Linked DNA regions of Homo sapiens: all the other regions are linked to region 1. Evidence: fine-mapped expression QTL. A gene starts in region 1. Each other region holds a variant in brackets. All regions are shown on one strand. Distances are from middle to middle.

What was found. PIP is the estimated chance that this variant, and not a neighbour inherited with it, causes the effect.
Region 2: its variant is the best candidate, but not a certain one, in a credible set for the expression of USP31 in T cells (TOPMed, PIP 0.51).
Region 3: its variant is the best candidate, but not a certain one, in a credible set for the expression of USP31 in esophagus muscle (GTEx, PIP 0.61).

The regions. Positions count from the first base shown.
Region 1 is chr16:23,145,014-23,153,196 of GRCh38, reverse strand. It overlaps USP31 (ubiquitin specific peptidase 31), which reads left to right and starts at 3,745. Exons shown (of 16, transcript NM_020718.4): 1 at 3,745-4,559. The coding sequence starts at 3,927. RefSeq lists an enhancer at 3,345-3,564 and silencers at 3,745-3,844, 3,995-4,044, 4,145-4,244, 4,375-4,604.
Region 2 is chr16:23,032,903-23,041,085 of GRCh38, reverse strand. No RefSeq gene overlaps it. Among named protein-coding and RNA genes, the nearest start is that of USP31, 110 kb to the left of the region's middle. The variant A/G (reference allele first, on the strand shown) is at 4,721.
Region 3 is chr16:23,282,491-23,290,643 of GRCh38, reverse strand. It overlaps a transcript of SCNN1B not described here. Among named protein-coding and RNA genes, the nearest start is that of SCNN1B, 16 kb to the left of the region's middle. The variant G/A (reference allele first, on the strand shown) is at 3,440.

The DNA of each region.
Region 1 (8,183 bases):
ACTTCTACGAGATAATATCTATAAAGGAATACACCGAAAAGAATAATGGGCAAATGGTGTGTGCAGGTGAATCACACCAGTAAAAATAAAATCGCTAATTAAAAGGTATTCCTAGTTGTTTTCTTGATTGCAAACAGCAGAAACTGACACTGGTTTGTTTCCCCAATAAAGGATTTACAGGAAACCTATCAGGTTAGCTCACAGAAAGAACAGAGCCAGAGAAACAGGCTTGGGCAGAAACCCAGGGACACAGACACCAGTAAGAACTTGCCACTAGAGTAGCAGCTGGACACTTGCTGCTACCACCCCCACACTGTACACCACCGTACTGCCACACTGCTAAATATATAGCTGCTAGATTCATTAATTCACTGCATTATCTCCAACGAACCGTGTATCAATACTTCTAGAGCCAAAGTCTAGGTAGGAACATATAGTTGGTCTTGCTCTGTCACCCAGGCTGGAGGGCAGTGGCACGATCATAGCTCATTGCAGCCTCCACCTCCTAGGCTCAAGTAATCCTTCCGCCTCAGCCTCCTGAGTAGCTGGGACTACAGAAGTGCACCACCACACCAGGCTTATTTATTTATTTTTTTAGAGACGGGATCTCGTGATGTTGCCCAGCCTGGTCTCAAACTCTTCCCGTCTCTGTCTGCCTGTGCTGAGATTACAGGCATGAGCCACTGCACCCGGCGGTGGTCTTTTTTAGGTCATGTTCCTGGGCTCTAGCTTCCAGGGGTAGGAAGGGGAATACCTGCTCCCTGCCACCCTACCCAGTTTTCATAGTGGGATCTTGAGTGGTCCTGCCTAATTTGGTATCCCTTGCAGACAGGAAGTTGGTTGAGATGTTGGATAGCAGAGAGACTGGCACATGATGTTCAACCTTACTCATACAAACAAAAAGTGCATTAATATGCCATCTTTTGTTCATCAAACTTGTCAATGTGAAAAAGACTGGAAAACTCAACAGTATGTTGGGATTGGGAAATGTGCATTTCCCATTAGTTGCTGACAGGATAAAACCTTTCTGGGGGTCAGCTTGACAATAGGTGTCATATATGGAATACGCATACCCTTTGATCCAAGGTTTCAGCCTAAGGAGATAGCTACATGATGGACAAGGTATAGGTCATGATAATATTCACTGCACTGTTGTTTCTAATTTACGTTTCCCGAGCTTAGGGGTAAGGGGTGGTACAGAGAGGGACAATGAAAGATTCACTACAGAATGTTCAAGGTGAGTCTTTAAGAATGATCATCTGAACATTCCAATGAGGAATTTTTTCAAGCCTGTGTCAAACTTTGAGGCTCAGTGGAGACCTATAAGACCTGTAAGCTTAGTGAGAGGGGCCCAGACTGGGAAGGCAGTTCTTAGGTATCCCACCAAGAAGTTCAGATATTGTTTAGAGGCCGGGCGCGGTGCCTCATGCCTGTAATCCCAGCACTTCGGGAGGCTGAGACAGGTGGATCACTTGAGGTCAGGAGTTCGAGACCAGCCTGGCCAACATGGTGAAACCCCGTCTCTACTAAAAATACAAAAATTAGGGCAACACGCTCGGGTCCCCTTCTACGCTGTGGAAGCTTTATTCTTTTGCTCTTCACAATAAATCTTGCTGCTGCTCACAAAACAAAACAAAACAAAAAACAAAAAACAAAAATTAGCCAGGTGTGCTGGCAAGTGCCTGTAATCCCAGCTACTCAGGAGTCTGAGGCAGGAGAATTGCTTGAACCCAGGAGATGGGGGTTGCAGGTGAGCTGAGATCCCGCCACTGCACTCCAGCCTGGTTGTTAGAGTGAGACTCCATCACACACACATACACACACACACACACACACACACACACACACACACACACGACATTGTTTAGGTATAAAGTTGCCAAATAATCAACCTGTTATATAATGGCTACCTTACTGGGTACCGAATAATGAGTAAGATGGGTCTCTACTGGGTTGAAGCCCACATATTAGTGAAGGTGATGATTGTAAACTGAATTGCAATATGGTCAAGTCAGTGTCATGAATGAGAGGTGCCAAGAGGGCCTGTGGAAGGGACATCTCCTGGAGGGGGTGATATCTAAGGTGGGACTTTAAGGATGAGGGGAAGTTAGCTAAGTAGAAAGGTTCTAAGTTAGCTAAGGAAAGGTTCAAGGGAGAGGGAACGGCTCCAGCAAAGGCCCTCGAGTCTAGATCAAACTGCCCAGAAGTTGAGGGCCATTGCATTCACATTTTAGTGTGAATAATCAGATGGCTTTCTTCCTGGTGTCCAGATAAGAATTTTGACTAAGAGGAGAGTGGAGCCGATTAGGGACAGTGCAGAGCACCCTGGAGATGTCATCATAGAGCCCTACTTACATTGGGGAGGGAGGTCAAAGGTAAAAACCATTTACTTTGAAACGTGGTGTAAGGTGGCCTTCATGTTTTAAAAAGGAGGAAGGGCTCTCCCTTCTCTGATTTCTCTCTTCTGCCTCAGGACTCAGACTAGCCCTTTTAGCAGAGGGGAGCCTATAGAGAGGAGGTCATATACTAGTTGATTTTGGACTAAAGGCATCCCAAAGATGTACTATTTTTTGCTCCCTGCACTATTTTTTTTTTAATGGAACCAACGTTTAAAAATAGGATTTCTGCCTTCTCTTAAAACATCAGATGATCTGGTAACGCTGAGCTCCTGTTCTCACATGGGAACAACTGGCTGGAGCTGAGTGGCAGCCACCTCTTTAGAAAGATGTTAATTTGAAGTCTGCTATAGTCCCCATCATTCCTTATATTTCCCCCAACACTGAGACCCAAGTCACTTGAAAGTCAATATGATGATTCAAACACCAGGATTCTTCACTCATTTGTGGGTTTGTGACCTGTGATATTTGTGGATTCGTGACCTTTGGTTTAGAGGTCAAGTATAGGGGTTGTAAATAAAACTTGGGTTTGAATCAGATAAGAACTGTACCAATCTCAAAGACGGTGAATTAAAGATTAAAGAAAATATTGCATGCTTGGCATAATGTGTGGAACACAACAGCTATTGTAAACACCCAGTAGGAATGTAAGCTGCAAGAGGGCAGGTAGAAACCGTGCTAATTTAATCCGCTGGGGATATGACATTTGATTCTAATTTAATAGGTTTAATTCTTTGCAATATCCCCAGTAACTGCTGAATGAATGAGTGAGTGAATGAATGAATGGAATGATGAATGATGGGAGAGCCCGGAGGAGTTTTAAAGGCTGGAATGAAAAGGAAAGTAGTTATGATAACAGCGTTTCGCTGGGACTCCAAGGTGCAGCCAGGAAGAAAAGCCCGCTGGGACGTGCCAGGGTCTGTGACTGCGCTCCGCTGGCACCCAGAGGGTAGGTATCTGCAACGTCCCTTGGGAGCCAGACAGGGCTGACTTGCCCAGGACCTGTCAGGGCCATGTCCACCAGCTCTTGCACGGTCTGGTAACTGACAGCATCCTGATTCCTGCACGTTCCCGCCTCTGCCATCTGACCAGCAAAGACAGAGACCCACCCCGGGGATCCACCATCCAACGGGAGCCCAGCCTTTTCCTCCAAGCCGGGACGGCGCCCACACTAGACATGGCCTCCCTCGGGCTTCACGCAGCAGGACCGCGCCCGCAGCCTCCAGGCATCGCGTCCGGCTGGAGAGGCAGCTACCGTCCCACAGTGAACATGGCGGCCGAGGCGGCTTCAGCGCCGGGCGGGCGGCGCCGGGAGGCACGTCACGTGAGCGGCTCAGCTGGGCGGACCGCGCGCGCGCCCGCTGGCCCCGCCGGCCGCCGCTCGCTCGCTGGCTCGGCTGCGCTTTGAGGTGTGTGGGGCGTCGAGCCCCCGGGCCCGGTGAGGCGCGGCGCTGCGGGATGCGGCGGCGGCCGTGGCGGGGCCGCGGGCCGGGCGGGCGGGCGCGGTGATGAGTGTCTGCGGCCGCCGCCATGTCCAAGGTAACGGCGCCTGGGTCCGGGCCGCCGGCGGCGGCGAGCGGGAAGGAGAAGCGCTCCTTCAGCAAGCGGCTGTTTCGGAGCGGCCGCGCTGGCGGCGGCGGCGCGGGGGGCCCCGGGGCGTCCGGGCCGGCCGCGCCTTCCTCGCCCTCCTCGCCCTCCTCTGCACGCTCGGTGGGCAGCTTCATGAGCCGCGTTCTCAAGACGCTGTCCACGCTCTCGCACCTTAGCTCTGAGGGCGCCGCCCCAGACCGCGGCGGCCTCCGCAGCTGCTTCCCGCCCGGGCCGGCCGCCGCGCCCACGCCGCCGCCGTGCCCGCCGCCGCCCGCCTCTCCCGCGCCGCCCGCTTGCGCCGCCGAGCCGGTGCCCGGCGTGGCGGGGCTCCGCAACCACGGCAACACGTGCTTCATGAACGCCACGCTGCAGTGCCTCAGCAACACCGAGCTCTTCGCCGAGTACCTGGCGCTGGGCCAGTACCGGGCGGGGCGGCCCGAGCCCTCGCCTGACCCGGAGCAGCCTGCGGGCCGCGGCGCGCAGGGCCAGGGCGAGGTCACTGAGCAGCTGGCGCACCTGGTGCGGGCCCTCTGGACCCTGGAGTACACCCCGCAGCACAGCCGCGACTTCAAGGTGAGCCCGCGCGCCGCCGCGCCCCCACTGCACCCCGAGCCCCTGGGGCACCTGCCCGCCCAGGTCTTCCTTCCCTCGGTTCCTCTTGGCCCGGCAGGCTTCTGCATTGGTTGCTCCGAGTGGTCTGGGCAGTCGACCAGTGATTTTAAGGAGATTCATTCATTCATTCATTTATTCACTCACTCACTCACTCAAACATGTATTTATTGAGAACTTACTACATACGTGCCCATACTCTGTGATAATAGGCAATGGGAGTGACGTTGCAATGAACAAGACTATCCGCCTTCATGGAACTTGCATTTTTGTGGGGTGGGAGTGTTGAGCATGGGTTCAAATCCTGGTTCTGCCACTTACTAGCAATGTGACGTCGGGTAAGTTAAGCAGCCTCTCTGTTCTTACAGTTTCTTCATCTGGGGGACCTACTTTGTAAGGTGGTTGTGAGCTGCAAACAAGTTAATATATTAAATCGAACACTGTGGAATTACCCATATTTAACCGTTTTTTATTTACAGATTGGCACTTTTATAGGGTTCAACCTGATAAGTAAAATACTTCCATATCATGTGTATTTGCTGCTATTATTTTTGTTATTAAAGACTTGAAGAAGTTAACGAGATAATATCAGATAGTGGTTTGAAGAAAGAAAAACCTGCTGCTGTGATTGATGTGCTGACAGGCTACTTTTTATTTTTATTTTATTTTTAGAGACAGGGTCTTGCTCTGTTGCCCAGGCTGGAGTGCAGTGCTCACATAGCCTCAAACTCCTGGGCTCAAGCAATCCTCCCGCCTCACCTTCCAGAGTATTTAATAGCTGGGACTACAGACACACACCACCATACCTACCTATTTTTTATTTTTAAAACACTTTTGTAGAGACGGGGGTTTTGCTGTGTTGCCCAGACTGGTCTTGAACTCTTGTCCTCAAGCCACTCTCCCCGCTTTGGCCTCCCAAAGTGCTGGGATTACAGGGGTGAGCTATACATCCCTGGGGGTATGTATGGCCCTTGGCCAAGCCCTCCTTTGCTGTTTGCTGGTGGGGCTGCAAGTGTAGTGAGAGGGTGAGATTTGAGAGCCGAGTGGTGGGCTGGGACCGGATGGTATGGGACCATTTAGGATGCACTAAGAAATTGGGCGGTTACTCTAAGCAGAAGGGGAACATGATGTGAGATTGTGTAAGGGATACTTTCAGGTGGGACATGAATATGGTATTAAACAGCATGGAATCGGGCGGGGCGCAGTGGCTCATGCCTGTAATCCTAGCACTTTGGGAGGCCAAGGCGGGTGGATCACCTGAGGTCCGGGGGTTCGAGACCAGCCTGACCAACATGGAGAAACCCCATCTCTACTAAAAATACAAAATTAGACGGGCGTGGTGGTTCATGCCTGTTATCCTGGCTACTCAGGAGGCTGAGGCAGGAGAATTGCTTGAACCTGGGAGGCGGACGTTGCAGTGAGCCGAGATCGTGCCATTGCACTCCAGCCTGGGCAACAGGAAACTCTATCTGTAAAAACAAAACAAAACAAAAACAGCGTGAAGTCACACAGGGAGAAGGTTAATTCCTTTTTTTTTTTCCTATCCTAATCTTGCCCAGGACGAAGTCTCAGCTTGATGTTAGCCTGTTTTTAATACCTCTTGTTCACCCCCCACCCATTTTTTTTTTTTTTTTTAAACAGAACAAGCTTCAAGTCTAGAAGCATTGGCAGGTAACAGTAGCTAGAATTTAATAAGGTTATGTTTTTATTGGGTTTCCATTTGTCTTCAATTCATGGCAAAAGGTACTGGTTTCCCATTGGTGCTATAAAGCTTCTTTATAACAACATTTAAGTAAAAGGAGATGATTTTGTTAAAATATGAAAAGGTCATCTAGCTGAGGATCTGCTTTGTTAAGGTCCTGCTTTCTTGCTGACGAACTACATGGCCAGTGTGCATCTCTCCCCGTTTAATACTTTTTACTTACATCTTATGCTGCTCAATGCTGTTTTTCTTGGAAAAAAATCGTTGCTGTTTGATCTTGGCAATTTGAATGGAAGTACTTGACTGAGATAGGGACTGGAAAAAAAGATCTATGTCAGTGATCTCAAAATTATTATTATTATTATTATTTTTGAGATGGAGTCTCACTCTGTCGCCCAGGCTGGAGGGCAGTGGCCTGATCTCGGCCCACTGCAACCTCTGCCTCCTGTGTTCAATCAAGCAATTCTCCTGTCTCAGCCTCCCAGGTAGCTGGGACTACAGGCGCCCGCTACATGCCCAGTTAATTTTTGATCCACCTGCCTCGGCCTCCCCAAGTGCTGAGATTACAGGCGTGAGCCACCGTGCCCAGCTGAGATCTCAAAATTAGAAAGGGAGAATGATCAGGAGAACTGACTACTGTAGGTCCACCCCCCGCCCCCCACCCCACACTGCCCCTCTTTGCTTACAATTGCCTGTAAGTAGCCACAGCATTTGTAAACTTTTCGAGGTCAGAGCCTAGTATTTAAGTTTGGTTTTCTCCTCTTTTCCAAAATGTGAAAATCAGTTTCTACAGCATCTTTGTATGTGAACATTTCCATTGCTTTTTATGAGTTTGTGTTCACTTTTTTATCCATTAAGCTGTGAACAGAAATGGGTCAATAATTCTAGAAGTACAGAGACTGATTTATAGGCATGCTTTGGCAGACATGAACAGATTCTTAGAGGCCTGGCTTTTTAAAAGTAATCTCCTGAACCTTTAGTAGGTTTCACTCTACATTCATTCATTCACCTCCCATTTATTGAAGGCTTACTTAATCAGTTAGGAATGCCTTCAGCCCAAGAAAGGAAAATCCCTAATGATAGTGCCTTAAGCAATGAAAACGTTGCAATTGGCAATTGGCACACACAGTGATTCCGGAGGTGGATGGTTCTATGGTTCAGTGGCTCGTTGGGCCCAACAAGGATTCAGACCATTTCTGTATTTCCACCTGTTGTCTTTTTAGCTATCATTGGCTTTTTGTTCTTAGGTTTGTCACCTCATGGTTGTCCAGTGATGGCAGCCACTGCACCTGGCATTCTACCCAGGACGGCAGGAAGTCATTAGGGAAATAAAAATTCTTCCAGAAGCCCCCTCAGCAGGCTTCTGCTGATATTTCATTGGCTATAACCATGTCAATTGGCTGTCACGGAGGCTGGAGGGTGGGCATTTGGGTTTTCCTGTCTTCACAGAGGAGATGAGTAAAGGAGGGGTTTACCTCCCAGGGAGCTATGAAGAGCTGAGTCGAGTAGGATCTAGGAAGTTCCCTGAGACAGCGCTTCTCATGCGTCAGTGTGCACATAATTCACCTGGGGATCTTGCTACAAAGGAAATTGAGATTCGGTAGAGCTGGAGCGGTGCCCAAGATTCTGCATTTCTAACAAGCTCCCTGGTGATGCCAGTGCTTTTGGCTCAAGGACCATCCTGTGTATAGCAGGCATCAAGGAACAAGGAAAGCATTACCAAAAAGGTGGCTCCTGAGCAGTGTTCTGAAAGATGAATAGAAATTTGCAGGGCAAGGAAGTGGTGGAGTTGCATGAAAGGGCGTGTGGTTTTGGGGAATAGACATTTAGTGGCTGGCTGCACCATAGAGAGCAGTGGGGGTGCAGGAAGCCTGGGAGAAGAGTGT
Region 2 (8,183 bases), 110 kb after region 1:
TTTGCATCGAGGCAAGAACCTTAACCAACAAAAAGATTACAACTTGCTGAAGATTCAGATGGTTGTTATCACGTTTTTTGCAATAAAGTATTCTTAAATTCAGGTATGTATATTTTTAAAAGACATAATGCTATCACACACTTAATAGACTACAGTATAATATAAATATAACTTTGTTGTTGTTGTTGTTTGTTTGCCTGTTTCAGACAGTCTCATTCTGTTGCCGGGGCTGGAGTGCAGTGGCATGATCACAGCTCACTGCAGCCTTGACCTTCTGGGCTCAAGTGAACCCCCCATCTCAGTCTCCTGAGTAGCTGGGACTACAGGTATGTGTGACTATGCTTGGCTAATTACATTTTTTTTTTTTTTTTGTAGAGACAGGGTCTTTGTATGTTGCCCAGGCTGGTCTCGAACTCCTGGCCTCAAGCAATCCTCCTGCCTTGGCTTCCAAAGTGTTGGGATTATAGGAGTGAACCACTGTGTCCAGCCCATTATAAGTTTTATATGCCCTGGGAAATAAAAAAAAAGCATGCGACTTGTTTTGTTGCAATATTCGCTTTGTTGTGGTTGCCTGGAACTGAGCCCATGATATCTCTGAGGTATGGCTGTATTTAGAAATGCATATTTAGCACCCTTTTCAGTTGCTCACAGAATACTTCCAAAGGATTATTAGTCACTGAGGGTGGTAACGGTCTGTCTTGTTTACATGCTGAAATCGCTCAGAAATGCATTCAGATGAAAGTAACAAGAAATTCAACCACAATGGCTTATACAAATATGAGTCTTTTGTTTGTTTGTTTGTTTGTTTGGAGACAGGTTCTTGCTCTGTCACCCAGGCTGGAGTGCAGTGGTGCAATCTTGGCTCATTGCAGCCTCAAACTCCTGGGCCCAAGTGATTCTCCCTCGTCAGCCTCCTGAGCAGCTGGGACTACAGGCCTGTACCACCGTGCCTTGCTAATTAAAAAAAAAATTTAGAGATGGTGTCTTGCTATGCTTCCCAGGCTGGTCTTGAACTCCTGGCCTCAAGTGATCCACCTGCCTCGGCCTCCCAGAGTGCTGGGATCACAGGCATGAGCCACTGCACCTGGGTAATTTTATTTTTTCTCTTCATATATGAAGTCTGGAGGCAGGCACCTTTGGCCTTAGTTCAGATGCTCAACAATGTCAAAGCAAATATTTCTGGGATTCTTTGGCCTTTTCACATTAGCAGTCAAGGCAGGAAGGAGGAGAGGGGAGACAGGGCAGCATCAATAGCAGAAAAGCAAAAGCAAAACGCTTTTTTGAGACCCCTGCCACCTGCCCCTTCTACTTATATTTGGGTCATGGTCACTTCTGGCTGGAAAGTAGATGGGAAAAAGAGGGTTGGAAATGGAATGGAAGGCAGGTCACCAACTAACAATATCTGCCAGACAGTCCCTGGCATAAGCAGGAGGTATCTCCATAGCTCTTTATAGACATCTGTTAAATGCATATGGTAGAATATTCAGGAATATTCAGTGCTTCTCCTTTTACAGAACAAGACATCCATGCTCTTAAGTGTAGGCATTTGAATTTTTTTGGTCAATGAAATGTGCACAGGAATGGCTTTAAGAGCCATGCTCTCTTTCCTCCACCTCTGTGATCACAGAAGCACATGTCGAGATGGAACTTCCATTGGCTTGAGTCCCTGAGTGACTCTAAAAAGAAGAACTCCCAGCTGACTGCTCAGAAACATGTAGCATGAGCAGGGACCAATCTTTGTTATTGAAGCCACTGAGATTTTTTTTGGTCGTTTGTTACTGCAGCCTAACCTGACCTACCCTGACTGTTGCAATGCTGTGTACCAGGTTATAAAGAAGTCCGTAACAAATTCTCCAAGTTACGAGTTTATAAATTATATTTCCTGATCTCATTAACAGCAAGAGTTTGCCTAAATTAAGACAAATGATAGCTACTTGGAAATTAAAGAATGTAAAAAGTAACCTTTTATCAAGGTGGAAATCAATACTGAAAGAGTGGGCTATTTAGACATTTAAGACAATGAAACCCACTGTCTAAAAATACATATGAGGGGGTGGGACTAAAGTTATTCTTAGCAAAATCCATATTTGAAAGCTGTTATTATTAAAATAAATATGGTTATTGAGAATAATTGAATTAAGAATTCAAAATAAGTAGAAAATGAACAGCAAAATAAAAGTAAAGTGAAAGGAAGCAATTAATAGAGATGAGAGCAAACATTAATCACAAAACAAAAAGTTGGTGGAGGTGATTAATCAAATCAAGAATCAGAACTTTGAAGTGATGAATAAAATAGACAAATCTCTGGAAAGTTTAATTCCCCCTGACACAAAAGGAAACACAGATATTCAGTGTAAGGCATGAGAAAAGGACAGCATACCTTGGCACAACGTTTTTGGTGAGTGGTTTGACACACCTGTCAAAATATCTAACGTGCATGCCTTGAAAATGTGATGAATATATAAATGTTGGATTGAACTGAATGAGCTTTTGAAGGCTTATGCAAAAATATTACTTTTTTGTGGGATGTTGGGCCCCTGAACTTGCTGAACAGGGTATGAGGTGGGATCCTTCTTCAACAGCATTCAGAGGAGGATGCATCTCAATCATTCTGGTCCTGCAAATGGGCCACATGTTTTGGTCTCCATGATCCTGTAGATCCAGTACAAGGGGGACGGTCTTGGCTATCCCACTTCCCTTCCTTCTTCCTCTTCCAGAAAGTTCTGCTGGGTTGTCCTCATGCTTTAAAAGATAAAATTATTCCCAGGATCCCCAGCACCCATGGACTCTATGGGTGGTTACAGTGATGCCTTATTCATTCACTAAATTGTCTCTGGTCTCTGATGCCTCCACAGAAGCTTCTTGTGTCAATTTGCCTCTTCTCTTGCTGTAAATCAGAGCCTGTTTCTGAGCTCAGGCTCAAGCTCCCACCTCTTTCACCATTTTGCCTTAGTCTTAGAAGAATTAGCATTTGCAGCAGGAAGGCTGGGGCAATTCTGAGCTCTGGATCTCAGTTTGCCCTTTGCAGCTCCATCTCCAATGGGAAGATTTCCTCTTGAATGCCCAGAATCCTAGAATGCAAGGTACAAATACATCCAGGCTCCTGGCCTAGAGTAGATCTTGACCATTGGAATTCATGGCCAGAAAGAAATGACAGACTATTCATTCATTTGTGCATGTTTACATTTATTTGTTTACTCATTCATTCGCTCAAAAATATTTATTTGTGCAGCTACTTTGTTCTGGGTGTTTTTCTAGACACTGGGGATTCAGAAGTGAAAGCAAGAGGGAAAAATCCTTGCCCTCCTAGGGCTCACATTTTGGAAGGGGAGATACACAATAAACGCAATAAATAGGTCAACTGAAATATATGTCAAATAGTAGTAAGATCCATAGAGAAAAATATGGATGAAGGATAGAGAGGGTGAGTTGGTTGCAATTTTAAATAGGGCAGTTAGAGGCCTCCCTGACAGGTGACATTCGAATAAAGGCACAAAGAATGTGAATGAGTGAGCTGTGCAGATTTCTGAGGGAGACATATTATAGGTAGTGGTAACAACAAATGAAAAGCCCTAAAGAGGAAGCATTGTGAAGACTATTCGAGAAAACAGCAAAGAGCTCAGTTTAGATGGAGCTGAATGAGTGAAGGGCAGTGTCATTGGAGCTGTAGTCATAGGTAATATCAGGATGGAGGGCATTGTCAGATGGAAACTTGGCTTTTTTCTGAGCGAGCTGGGAGCTACAGAAAGGTTCTGAGATGGGGAGGGACAGGGCCTTCCAGTGGTTGATAGGTTGGGAACAGACTGCGGTAAAGCCCAGATAAGTGCAGGCAGCCAGTTAAGAGGCTTCTGCAATGACCTAGATGAGAGGTGATAGTGGCTTGGCCCTGGATGATGGCACAGAGGTGATGAGAAGTGGCTAGATTCCAGGGATACCAAAGGCAGTGCTGTGGGGATGGGTGTTAGGGAGAAAGAGGAGTTAGAAAGATGCCAATGCCAACTTTGAACATCAAGAACCTGTGCCTTCTATAGGAAACCACACAAGATAACATGATCTCTCATAACTCCTCTTCCTCTCTGAGGACTTGCATGAGATCATCTCCAAAAGCTGTTCCCTGGATCAGGGTAAGTCTCCCCCCAGAGGGCTCTGCTTCCCATTGTTGGACCAAAAAACAGAATAGGAGGAGTGCACAAAGTGAGCCTGGCTCATCTAAATTCTGCCTCAGTCCCCTTCTCTCTTCAGTGACAGCAAAGAAACATCATTGTATAACCCACTCAATGAAAAACAATATTTAATTAGGGCTGAGAGAGTTAGACAAGCAAACAATTAAATGTTCTATTACGATCAGTCTTGAGCCATTTAAGCTTCAGTTCAATAAGGCATCATTATACAGGTCTAATAGAAATGAAAATATAAATAGTGCAGTTTTATGTTGCATTTCAACCATTTCCTTGGCCTTGCAAATCTAAAGTTTGTTTGACCATGGCAGATGAAGGCTCCCAGCCACAAGGATGATTGAGTTGCATCCTCCTCCAAATGTTGCTGGAGAAGGGTCTCACTTCATCCCCTGTCCAGCACATTCAGGGACCGAAATATCTCAAAAAAAAAAAGTAATGTTTTTGCATAAGCCTTCATATTTGAGAATCTCATTCTGTTCAATCTAACATTTATGTAGTCATGATAAAGGGATTTAGCACAGACCTGATGGAGGCAGAAGGCA[A/G]GCATATCTACCAGTGGCTAGGGAAGCAGGAGAGGAATCTGTCAGTTAAGCTGGCTTGAACCAACACAACAGGGATGTTTTCATCTTATTCTTGATATCTGAGTAGCCACACGAGTATCCTGTCTGGGAGGAAAGAGAAGTAGCTTAAAAGAAAACCCTGGATGTCTTGAGAGATGCTGGATTATAGAATAAATATGTCTAATAAAATTCCCCTAGTTGCTCAGCTTTGAGGATTTGGAAATAACTTCAGACTGTTTCATGAAGGCATTGCTTCACTGCAATTGGGAACATACCTTCTCAGGGCACCACAATCACAGGAGAGGTCTTTGGGATGAAGATACCATCCATCTCTGAGGTCTGAGTCCCTGCAGCCAGGACTCCTGCCCAGGCCTTTTGGAACATGGAAGAACAAACTCATGTCACCTCTTCCTGGAACCCTCTCAACATCTTTCTTCCTGTCTTGAGGCATCCCAGTCTCCTCTCTGGATTACTCAGTGTGTCATGAGGATATGGTTTGGAGATAGTCTTAATCTAAGCCAGGTCTTTGGTGTTGTGAAAAATGGAAAACCCAACCCAAATTGGTTTAAACCTTTTGACTCATGCAATTTTTTCTGTAAAGGGCCAGATAGCTAATATTTTAAATGTTAGATTGATCTGTCACAACTACTCAACCCTGTCATTGTAGTGCAAAAGCAGCCATGGACAATAAGTAAATGAACAAACAGGTATGGTTGAGTTCTGATAAAAGCTTATTTATGAAAACAAGTTATAAGCCAGGATTGGGCCATGAGTTGTGATTTGCTGACCAATCTCTGATCTAGAGCACTGTTGCAGGCTGGTCTCTTTAGAATGCTGTAGTGGAGTTAGAGGGCAAAAAGTTTTGAGGAGAGTAACACTTGTGAAAAGAAAATGAGAAGAGACAGGGTTGTGCTGGAGGAGCTGTAAAACCAAATTGCAGACCTCACAAGGTCTCTGCCAGCCTAGCAGGGAGCTCTGGAGCAAAGGATGCTGATATAGTTTTGCTGTGTCCCCACCCAAATCTCAACTTGAATTGTAATAATCTCAAAGTATCAAGGGTGGGGCCAGGTTGAGATAATTGAATCATGGGGGTGGTTTCCCCCGTACTATTCTCGTGGTAGTGAATAAATCTCATGAGATCTGATAGTTTTATAAATGGGAATTCCCCTGCACAAGCTCTCTTGACTGTCACCATGTAAAAAGTCCCTTTTCTCTTCTTTCATCTTCTGCCACGATTGTGAGGCCTCCCCAGCCACGTGGAACTGTGATTGCATTAAACCTCTTTTATTTATAAATTACCAGTCTCAGATATGTCTTTATTAGCAGCACGAGAATATACTAATACAGATGGCCATTACAGAAGTCCTCATTGGGCAGAAATGGCCAGGTCCTAGTACTCCATCTTGCTCAGTCACTAGCCAGGGGCCACCCCAAGAAGATTATGCCTTGGTTCACAAGCCGAGCATCCTGAAGTTGCTGCCAGTTGGAGGCTGTCAGTTATCTGCACTCCTTGATGCTGGGCTGTGTGTTTTCTCTCTAAGGGGGATTTGAACAGTGCATTGCCATGTACTTCCACTAGATCAAGGAGTAAACACAGGGGGAAGGAGCCAAGGAAGAAGACTCGCAGTCACTTCCTTTGGAGTAGGACTTTGGCATGTCCCTAGAATGGGGCGTAAGGTTTATATTTGGGACAAATGCCTTTTGGTAGAAAAACAGTATGATTTTGCCTAGAACATCCTTTCCCTTGAGAACCCATGGTAATCTTCAGCAGCAGAACAAGAAGTCAGAGGCCCTGAGTTCCGGCCAAACTCATCGTGGCCACCATATTTGAGGTTAATCAAGCTCATTTTGTTCAGTTTTATTTCATTTTTGAGATGGAGTCTCGCTATTTTGCCCAGGCTGGTCTCAAACTCCTGGACTAAAGTGATCCTCCTGTCTCAGCCTCCTGAATAGCTGGGATTACAGGCATGTGACACCATGCAAAGCTAGTTTCATTTGTAGTAAGCAAACTGTTGATTATAATTTGCCTTCCCATGTGGTTTTCTCCATAGCCAAGAATACGCTGACCATTGGGATTGAGTAAGCAATTATATTTCTCATTGTAAACAAATACTTTGGAATTATAGTTTACACAGCAGCCTCAGTTTCATGTGAGTCCACCTCAGAGAAGTGAATACTTTGTGAGGGGATAGACAACATATCAGCCTAATCAGCTGAGAACTGGACTGTGAACCTTGGGGATTTACCAAAGCAAATGCCACCCTATAAGGATTTTTGGAACTCAGGAAGGCTGCCTCCCTTAGAAAGTCCCCCATCTTGCCAAGCTCTTTTTTATACCCTCTTCATTGCAAATATGTGAAAAGTTGTTCCAGTAGACGACAACCACCAAATCTTACAAGACATGAAAACACCCGTCATTCACAAACATCTGTAACACTCTGAAGGTTAATGCAGAGACAGATAGCCAAATCCCCCTGCAGTGGGTCTGAAAGGCACATGGCTCCCAGCTAAAGACTCTATTTCCCTGACTCTCTTGCAGCTAGCTGAATGTAGCAATGTATCTAAATTCTAACCAGTGGGATGTGGGAATAAGCAGTGGGTACATCTTTTTATTTGTTTTTCTAATTTTTTTCAACTTTTATTTTAGATTCCAGGGATACTTGTCCAGGTTTGTTACAAAGATATGTTGTGTGTTGCCCAGTTTTGGCATACAATTGAACTTGTCACCCAGGAAATGAGCATAGTACCCAATAGGTAATTTTATTTTTTTTGAGACAAGGTCTTACTCCAATGACCCAGGCTGGAGTGCAGTGGTGCGATCTTGGCTCACTGCTGCCTCAACCTCTCAGGCTAAAGTGATTCTCCCACCTCAGCCTTCTGGGTAGCTGGGTCTACAGGTGTGTGCCACCATGCCTGGCTAATTTTTTGTACTTTTAGTGGAGACAGGGTTTTGCCATGTTGCCCAGGCTGGTCTCAAACTCCTGGATTCAAACAATCAGCCCATTTTGGCCTCCCAAAGTGCTGGGATTATAGGCATGAGCCACCACACCTGGCCCCAATAGGTAATTTTTCAACCCTTGCCCCTCTCACTCTCTCTCCACTCTTGCATCCCCCCATATCTATTGTTTCCATCTTTATGTCCATATGTTGCGTGCATCTTCTGACTTATGACCTGACAGGGAGAGCAGCATACCCTCCTCACTTCCTCTTTTCCTTTTCTCCTGGCCAGGATGTAGATGTGATGGTAGGACCTGAAGCAGCCATCTTGGGTCACAAGAAGGAAGTCACTTGGTGAGATGGGCAGAGCGACAAGACGGAAGTAGCAGCCACCACACCAATCACGGACTGCTGGTCCAGACTTTTCATGACAGAGAACTTAATTTCTAACCTTTAAAGCCACTGTTATTCTGCATCCCTCTTTTACAGTAGCTGAACTAATAGCCGA
Region 3 (8,153 bases), 140 kb before region 1:
AAGTCAACAGTTATGGGGCCTTAAAAGCTAGAGTTTAGGAGGGGTGCTATGGCTCGTGCCTGTAATCCCGGCACTTGGAATGCCAAGGCAAGAGGATTGCTTGAGTCCAGGCGTTTGAGAACAGCCTGGGCAACGTAGCAAGACCTGGTCTCTACAACAAACAGAAAAAGTAGCTAGACATGGTGGTGCACACGTGTAGTCCCAGCTACTCGGGAGGCTGAGGTGGGAGAATCACTTGAGCCCAGGAGGTTGAGGCTGCAGTGAGCCATGATCAGCGCCACTGCACTCCAGCCTGGTGACAGAGTGAAACCCTGACTCCAAAAGAAACAAAACCTAGAGTTTGATCACATAAGTGTTGCTAATAATAATTTCAATAACAATAATAGTAGCAGCAGCAAGTGGCAAGTGCTTACACTTAGGTAGCACTTAACTGTGCCAGCCATCGTCTTAAACATTTTCTATCTACTAACTCTCTTAATCCTCACAATAGCCCAGTGAGACAGAGACTATCGGCCTCATTTTATAGGGGAAAAAAACGGAGACGTGCAGATTTCTACTGGGTGCATGTTCTAAAAGTCAAATCCATTGTCTGTTGTTTTCCCCCAGCCTGTTTCTTGCCTTTTTACTTCATTTGTGAGGTTTTGATCATATTGAAATGTTACATATTGGGTCGGGTGCAGTGACTCATGCCTGTAATCCCAGCACTTTGGGAGGCCGAGGTGGGTGGATCATTTGAGATCAGGAGTTCGAGACCAGCCTGGCCAACATGGTGAAACCCCGTCTCTACTAAAAATACAAAAATTAACCAGGCGTGGTGGCGCATGCCTGTAATCCCAGCTACTCAGGAGGCTGAGGCAGGAGAATCGCTTGAATCCCAGAGGCAGAGGTTGCAGTGAGCCGAGATCGTGCCACTGCACTCCAGCCTAAGTGACAGAGTGAGACTCTGCCTCAAAAAAAAAAAAAAAAAAAAGTTAAATATTGGAGTAGTAAACAGTAAAGCTGTGGGGATGCCTACAGTAGGTCCATTTGATTCCATCCTTTCTCTCTGGTTCTATATTTGAGGTTGGGGAGGGATTTCTTTTTTTTTTTCTTTGAGATAGGGTCTCAAGCTGTCACTAAGGCTAGAGTGCAGTGATGTGACCACAGCTCAGTGCAGCCTCAAACTCCTGGGCTTAATCGATCCTCCAGCTTCAGCCTCCTGAGTATCCAGGACTACACACCACCATGCCCAGCTAATTTTTAAAAATATTTTGTAGAGATGGGATCTTGCTACATTGCCCAGGCTGGTCTGAGGCTTCTGGCCTCATGCAATCCTCCTGTCTTAGCCTCCCAAAGCACTGGGATTACAGGCATGAGCTACCACACGCAGCCTCCACTGGTTTAGAGTCTCCACACAGAGCCAGAATAATCCTTCTATGACTCAAGCCATATTAAAGAAACAGAGTGACACTCCTCAGTCATCTTCGAAGGGTGCTAGGTGTGGCCGGTAGGCTCTAAGGTGCCCCCAGTGATTCCGCCTGCTGGTGTCAACACCCCTGTATGGGGAGGCTGATCTAGTGGCTTGCTTCTAATCATCGAAGATGGCAAGGGTGATGGGATGTCATTTCTGTGATTAGGCTATGTAAGTTGCTCACTGCTGTCTTGCTAGCACCCTCCCTTGCTGCCTTTGATGAAGCAAGTTACTATGCTGGGAGGGTCACATGGCAAGAAACTGAGAGTGGCTTCCGGGCAAAAACCAGACAGGAACTGAGGCCCCGAGTCCAACAACTCTTGAGGAACTGAATCCTGCTAACAACCACCTTTCCCCAGTCGAGCCTTTAAATGAGACCCAAGTCCTAGCAGACATTCACTCTATCACCCAGGCTAGAGTGCAGTGGTGTGATCAGAGCTCACTGGAGCCTTGACCTCCCCATCTCAAGCAATCCTCCTACCTCAGCTTCCTGAGTAGCTGGGACCACAGGTGGGTACCACCACACCTGGCTCATTTTTTACAATTATTTTTTGTAGAGGCAGGGTTTCGCCATGTTGCTCAGGCTGGTCTTAAACTGCTGGGCTCAAGCAATCCTCCCACCTTGGCCTCCCAAAGTGCTGAGATTTACAGGTGTGAGCCACTGCACCTGGCCCCAGCAGACACCTTGATCACAGCACCATGAGAGACCACAAAGCAGAGCTCACAGCTAAGCCTTGCTGGGGTTCCTGACTGGCAGAAACTGTCACGTAATAAATGAGTAATGTTTTAAGCCACTAAGTGTGGTAATTTGCTACGTGGCAATAGTCAGCTAATACACTAGGGAACTGACTTATTATTTTGAAAATTTGTAATTAAAAGGAGAGAGTCAAGAATGTATTCTGGCTGTCCTATACAAATGGAATCTGAGGGTAGTCATATAACTGATACGGGGGCAGTTTTCTTTTATAGATATATCCTAGCTAATAAAAGAAGAAAAAAAAATCCATACTTTGCAACTTTTTTGTTTTTTGAGACAGGGTCTAGACAGGGTCTCACTTTGTCACACAGGCTGGAGTAAAGTGGCGCAATGTCAGCTCACTGCAGCCTCAACCAGGGCTCAAGTGATGCTTCCACCTCAGCCCACCAAGCAGCTGGGACTACAGGCACACACCACCATGCCCAGCTAATTTTTTTTTTTTTTTGTAGAGATGGGGTTTCACCATGTTGCCCAGGATAGTCCTGAACTCCTGGGCTCAAGCAATCAGCCTACCTCGGCTTCCCAAAATGCTGGGATTACAGGTGTGAGTCACTGCTTCAACCCAGGAGTTTGGAGACCAGCCTGGGCTACATAGCGAGACCCCATCTCTTAAAAAAAAAAAAAAGGAAACGCTACTTAGTTACAATACCATCATGTCACAAAACAAAATGAACCCCAGATCTTTTCTATTTTTAGACTGAGTGTCACTCTGTCATTCAGGCTGGATTGTGGTGGTATAATCATAGCTCACTGGAGCCTCAACCTCCCCGGGCTCAGGTGATCCTCCTTCCTCATCCTCCAGGAGGTGGATCTGTAGGCCACCCCCTGGGACTACAGGTGCGTGCTATCATGGCTGGCTAATTTTTGTAGTATTATTTTTTACTGTTTGTAGTGACAGGGATTTGCTCTATTGCCCAGGCTGGTCTTGAACTCCTAGGCTCAAATGATCCCCCCACCTCAGCCTCCCAAAGTGTTGGGATTACAGGATCTTTATTAACATGTAATTCCTCATATTAGCATTTCCCCGGTCACCCTCAAAATGTCTTTTACCATTGGTTTAAACCGAGACCCAGTCAATGTTCACAAATTGCATTTTATCATATCTCTCTCTTTTTTAAAAAAATTAATTTTTGGCAGGGCACGGTGGCTCATGCCTGTAATCCCAGCACTTTGGGAGGCTGAGGCAGGCAGATTACCTGAAGTCAGGAGTTTGAGATCAGCCTGGCTAACAT[G/A]GCAAAACCCCATCACTACTAAAAATATAAAAATTAGCCGGGCGTGGTGGTAGGTGCCTGTAATTCCAGCTACTTGGGAGGCTGAGGCAAGAGAACCACTTGAACCCTGGAGGCGGAGGTTGCAGTGAGTGGAGATCACCCCATTGTACTCCAGCCTGGGTGACAAGAGCAAAACTCTGTCTCAAAAAAAAAAAAAACAACCCAGCAACAACAACAACAGCAACAACAACAACATCAACAACAACAACAACAAAAAACTAAATAAAATTTACTTTTAATAGAGACGGGCTCTTTCTGTGTTGCCAGGGCTGGTCTTGAACTCCTGGGTTCAAGCAATAGCCTGCCTCAGCCTCCCAAAGTGCTGGGATTACATGTGTGAGCCACTTGTAATCAGGCTCCTGGCTTGATTCCATCTCTTAAGTCTTTCTAAATCTAGACTAGCTTCCCTTCCCGTTCTCTCTCCTTTTTCCAGGTCATTGAGCTGTTGAAGCAACTAGGACCATTGTCTTGCTGGTAGAATGGTCTACCTTCTAGAGTTTGATTGATTTCTTGAGGTGTATTTAATTTGTCCTGCTGTCTGCTGTATTTCCTATAAACTAGAAGCTAAATCTATGGTTTGATCAGATTTTGGCTACACGTTATCGGCAAGAATTCTTCCTGGGTGGTGTTATAAGTATGCTCTTGCATCACACCAGAAAGCTCAAAATGAAAGGCTGTCTCATTAGCGAAGCTAAGATTGATTCATGGGTTCAGGTGGTGACAACCAGATCCTTCCATTGTGAAGTCGTTTCTTCTCTCAGAACCAGTAAGTTCTCTATGGCCTGATGACTTGGCTGCTTGTGAATCACAGGAACCCAGGAGGCGGAGGTTAAATATCCAGCCTCCCTTGAACCTTTCACCTTGCAGTTTCAGCATCCATTGATGATCATTGTCTGAGTCAATCATTTTGTTCGGAGTTGCAAAGTTCTAATGCTCTCATTCCTTTGACATTTGTGAGCAGGCATTCTTCCTTAAAGAAGAGCTTCTTTCCCTCACTGACTAGGGCAGAATAAATTCTTTCCTTGTTATCACTACTATTTTTAGAGTAAGGACTTGATGCAACAGCTGCCTCCAATGATGACAAATAGTTCCTCCTTTTCTGTTTTCTCTTTCTCTTTTAAAATATCATTATGAATTCATTGATCTTTAAAAATAGATTTAATATGTTTCATTCAATGGTATTTATTATTTTAAGACAGTGTCTCGCTCTGTTGCCCAGGCTGGAGTGCAGTGGCTCGATCTTGGCTCACTGCAACTTCTGCCTCCTGGGTTCAAGCGATTCTCATTCCTCACCCTCCCAAGTAGCTGGGATTATAGGCATGCACTACCATGCCCAGCTAATTCACGTGGTTTTAGTAGAGATGGAGTTTCGCCATGTTGCCCAGCCTGGTCTTGAACTCCTGACCTCCAGTGATCCTTCTGCCTTGGCCTCCCAAAGTGTTGGGATTATAGGCGTGAGCCACTGTGCCCAGACTATTATTGTATTTTTTATTATTTTTTTTTATTATTATTGTTTTTTTACTCTTGCTAATTAAAAATTTTCTGTACAGATAGAGTCTTGCTATGTTGGCCAGGCTGTTCTTCAACTCCCGGGCTCAAGTGAGTCTCCTGCTTTGGCCTGCCCAAGTGCTAGGATTACACATATAAGCCACCATGCCTGGCCCATTTATTATTTTTTAAAACATATTTTTTTAGGCTGGGTGCACTAGTTCATGCCTGTAATCTCAGCACTTTGGGAGCCTGAGGCAGAAGGATCACTTGAGGCCATGAGTTTGAGACCAGCCTGGACAACATAGCGAGGCCCTACCTCTACAAAAAATAAAAAATTAGCTGGGTGTGGTGGTGCACACCTGTAGTCCCAGCTACTGGGGAGGCTGAGACAAGAGGATAGCTTGAGCCCAGGAGACTGAGGATGCAGTGAGCAATGATCACATCATGGCATTCCAGCCTGGGTGACAGAGTGAGAGTCTTAACTTCTTAACGTCTAACATGACCATATGGTACCTTTGACAAAAGTGAGAAACCAATGTTCATACATTACTATTAACCAAACTCTAGACTTTATTTAAATGTTACCAGTTTCTCCACTAATGTGTTTTTTCTGTTCCAGGATTATTCATTCTTTCTTTTTGATACTAAAAAATGGTCCAAATTGAGCAAGTGGGAGCCCTGCCAGGCTACCTCTGTGTCCTTCTGATGGGACCATGAACTCGCATAGTCTTTGATAAGCTTCTTTGCTTTCCAGCCCAACAAGATGCCCCAGGCTCATTTGGATTTGATTTGTTTGCCAACATTTAAAAAGTAGCAGATCGAACTTGAAAATCAGGATTTTCTATTTCTCCTGAGAAGTCAGCAGATCTGGCAACACTGAACTTGCATTCCTTGGCAGAAATTGGCTGAAAGTTACTTAGTAGGGCTGCCCCATTTAGACATGGGGTGTGCTCTCCAGTTTGACATGGTCCTCACCTCTCCCTAGAACTGGTTCACTCCATGCTTTTGTATGCTCTGTCTGACTGCTGTAGGCATCTGAGGTTGCTCCCTCTGGGTTAAGAGCACAGACTTTAGTGTTTGTCTGCCCTTCCCTCTGCCTCCTAGCTTTCTTTCTATTTATGGAGTGCCTTCGTTGTGCCAAACACTATGTGAGGTGCTGGAGTTCTAACAAGACCAACATGTGGGTTGTTGACCTGTTTGATCTTAGATCCATGCTCTGCCATTTTATTTTATTTATTTTCTTAATTTATTTTTATTTATTTATTTTTTTGAGATGGAGTCTTGCTCTGTTGCCCAGGCTGGAGTGCAGTGGCACTGTCTCCGCTCACTGCAATCTCCTCCTCCTGGGTTCAAGCAATTCTTCTACCTCAGCCTCCCGAGTAGCTGGGATTATAGGCACGTGCCACCATACCTGGCTAATTTTTGTACTTTTAGTAGGCACAGGTTTTCGCCATGTTGGCCAGGCTGGTCTTGAACTCCTGACCTCAGGTGATCCGCCCACCTCAGCCATCCCAAATGTTGGGATTACAGGTGCGAGCCACTGCACTCGGCCATCCCTAACATTTCTAATGCAAGGTACATTTCCCAAGCTCTACTGCCAACTGGTCAATTGACTTCTATCTAAATTGGGCCAAAAAGAGGCACTGGCAGGAGATTGGATGGTGGGACAAGGGGAGGAGCCAGGGCGGTCCTTCGTTCCCCAAATTCAGAGAACATTTCCCAACAGAGGCTGCACCTCCTCCATGGTTTAGCTTCTCACTGGGAAGCTCCTGCTGTGGTTCTAGCTCCTTCTAGGTGGACCAAGTTCTGAGCATGACCCAGCTCTGGGCATCGGTAACACCACATCCTCCCTGTGTCCCTCCAGCCCTACCTGTGAGAGTAGTTTCCTGATGTTGCTGAGTCCAGGATTGCTTCACCATCTCCGGCTTGGCTTCTCAGCTGTTGAATCATTTGTGTAATTAATTTCTTGTATCAAATTTCCTCTATTTGAATTGCCTACAATGGTTTTGTTTTTCAGGGACAATGCAGACAATCCCTGATTTACAATGGTTCAATTTAGGATTTTCTGACTTTACCATGGTGCAAATGCCATATATATTCAGTAGAAATTGTACCTGGAGTACCTATACAACCATTCTGTTTTTCACTTTCAGTGCAATATTCAATACATTACACAAGACATTCAACACCTTCTTATAAATTAGGCTTGGTGTTAGATGATTTTGCCCAATTGTAGGCTAAAGTAAGTGTCCTTCTTATTTTTGGAGATGGAGTCTTGCTCTGTTGCCTAGGCTGGAGTGCAGTGTCGTGATCTTGGGTCACTGCAACATCTGCCTCTCGAGTTCAAGAGATCCTCATATCTCAGCCTCCCGAGTAGCTGGGACTACAGGCATGTGCCACCGCACCTGGCTAATTTTTGTCTTTTTGGTAGAGATGGGGTTTCACCATGTTGGCCAGGCTGGTCTTCAACTCCTGACCTCAAGTGATCCACCTGCCTCAGCCTCCCAACGTCCTGGGATTACAGGCGTGAGCCACTGTGCCCAGCTTAACGTAAGTGTTCTGAGCTTAAGGGGAGCTAGACTAAGCTATGATGTTTGGTAGGTCAGGTATATCAAATGCATTTCAACTTGATGCAGGATAGGCAAGCCCCCAAGTTGGGGCTTAGCCTAGGAGGGTTCTTGGCTTTGTCCAGGAGAGAATTCAAGGTCAAGCTGGTAGTGTTAAACAGCAACTTATATTGAAGCCACAGCACACAGCAGCAGCAGAAGGACTGTTTCTTGCAGAGCAGGGCTACCTCATAGGCAGTGTGCCCAGAAAAGCAGCTCAGAGGCAGGGCTGTACTTGTATTTACACCTACTTTTAATTACATACAAATCAAGAGGCAGTTTATGCAGATGTTTCTAGAAAAAGTGGTGGTAACTTCTGGGTTGTCAGGTTGTTGCCATGGAAGGGGGCAGGCGTTGCCATGGCAATAGTAAACTGACATGGCACACTAGTGGGTGTGTCTTATGGAAAGTTGCTTCTGCTCTGGCCCTGTTTTAGCTAGTTCTCAATTTGGTCCAGTGTCCAAGCCCCACATCTGGAATGGAGTCATGCCTCCTACCTCAATTAAGATATTTTCAACTCATGATGGGTTTATCAGGATGTAACCCCATCATAAACCAAGGAGGAGTATTCATAGATT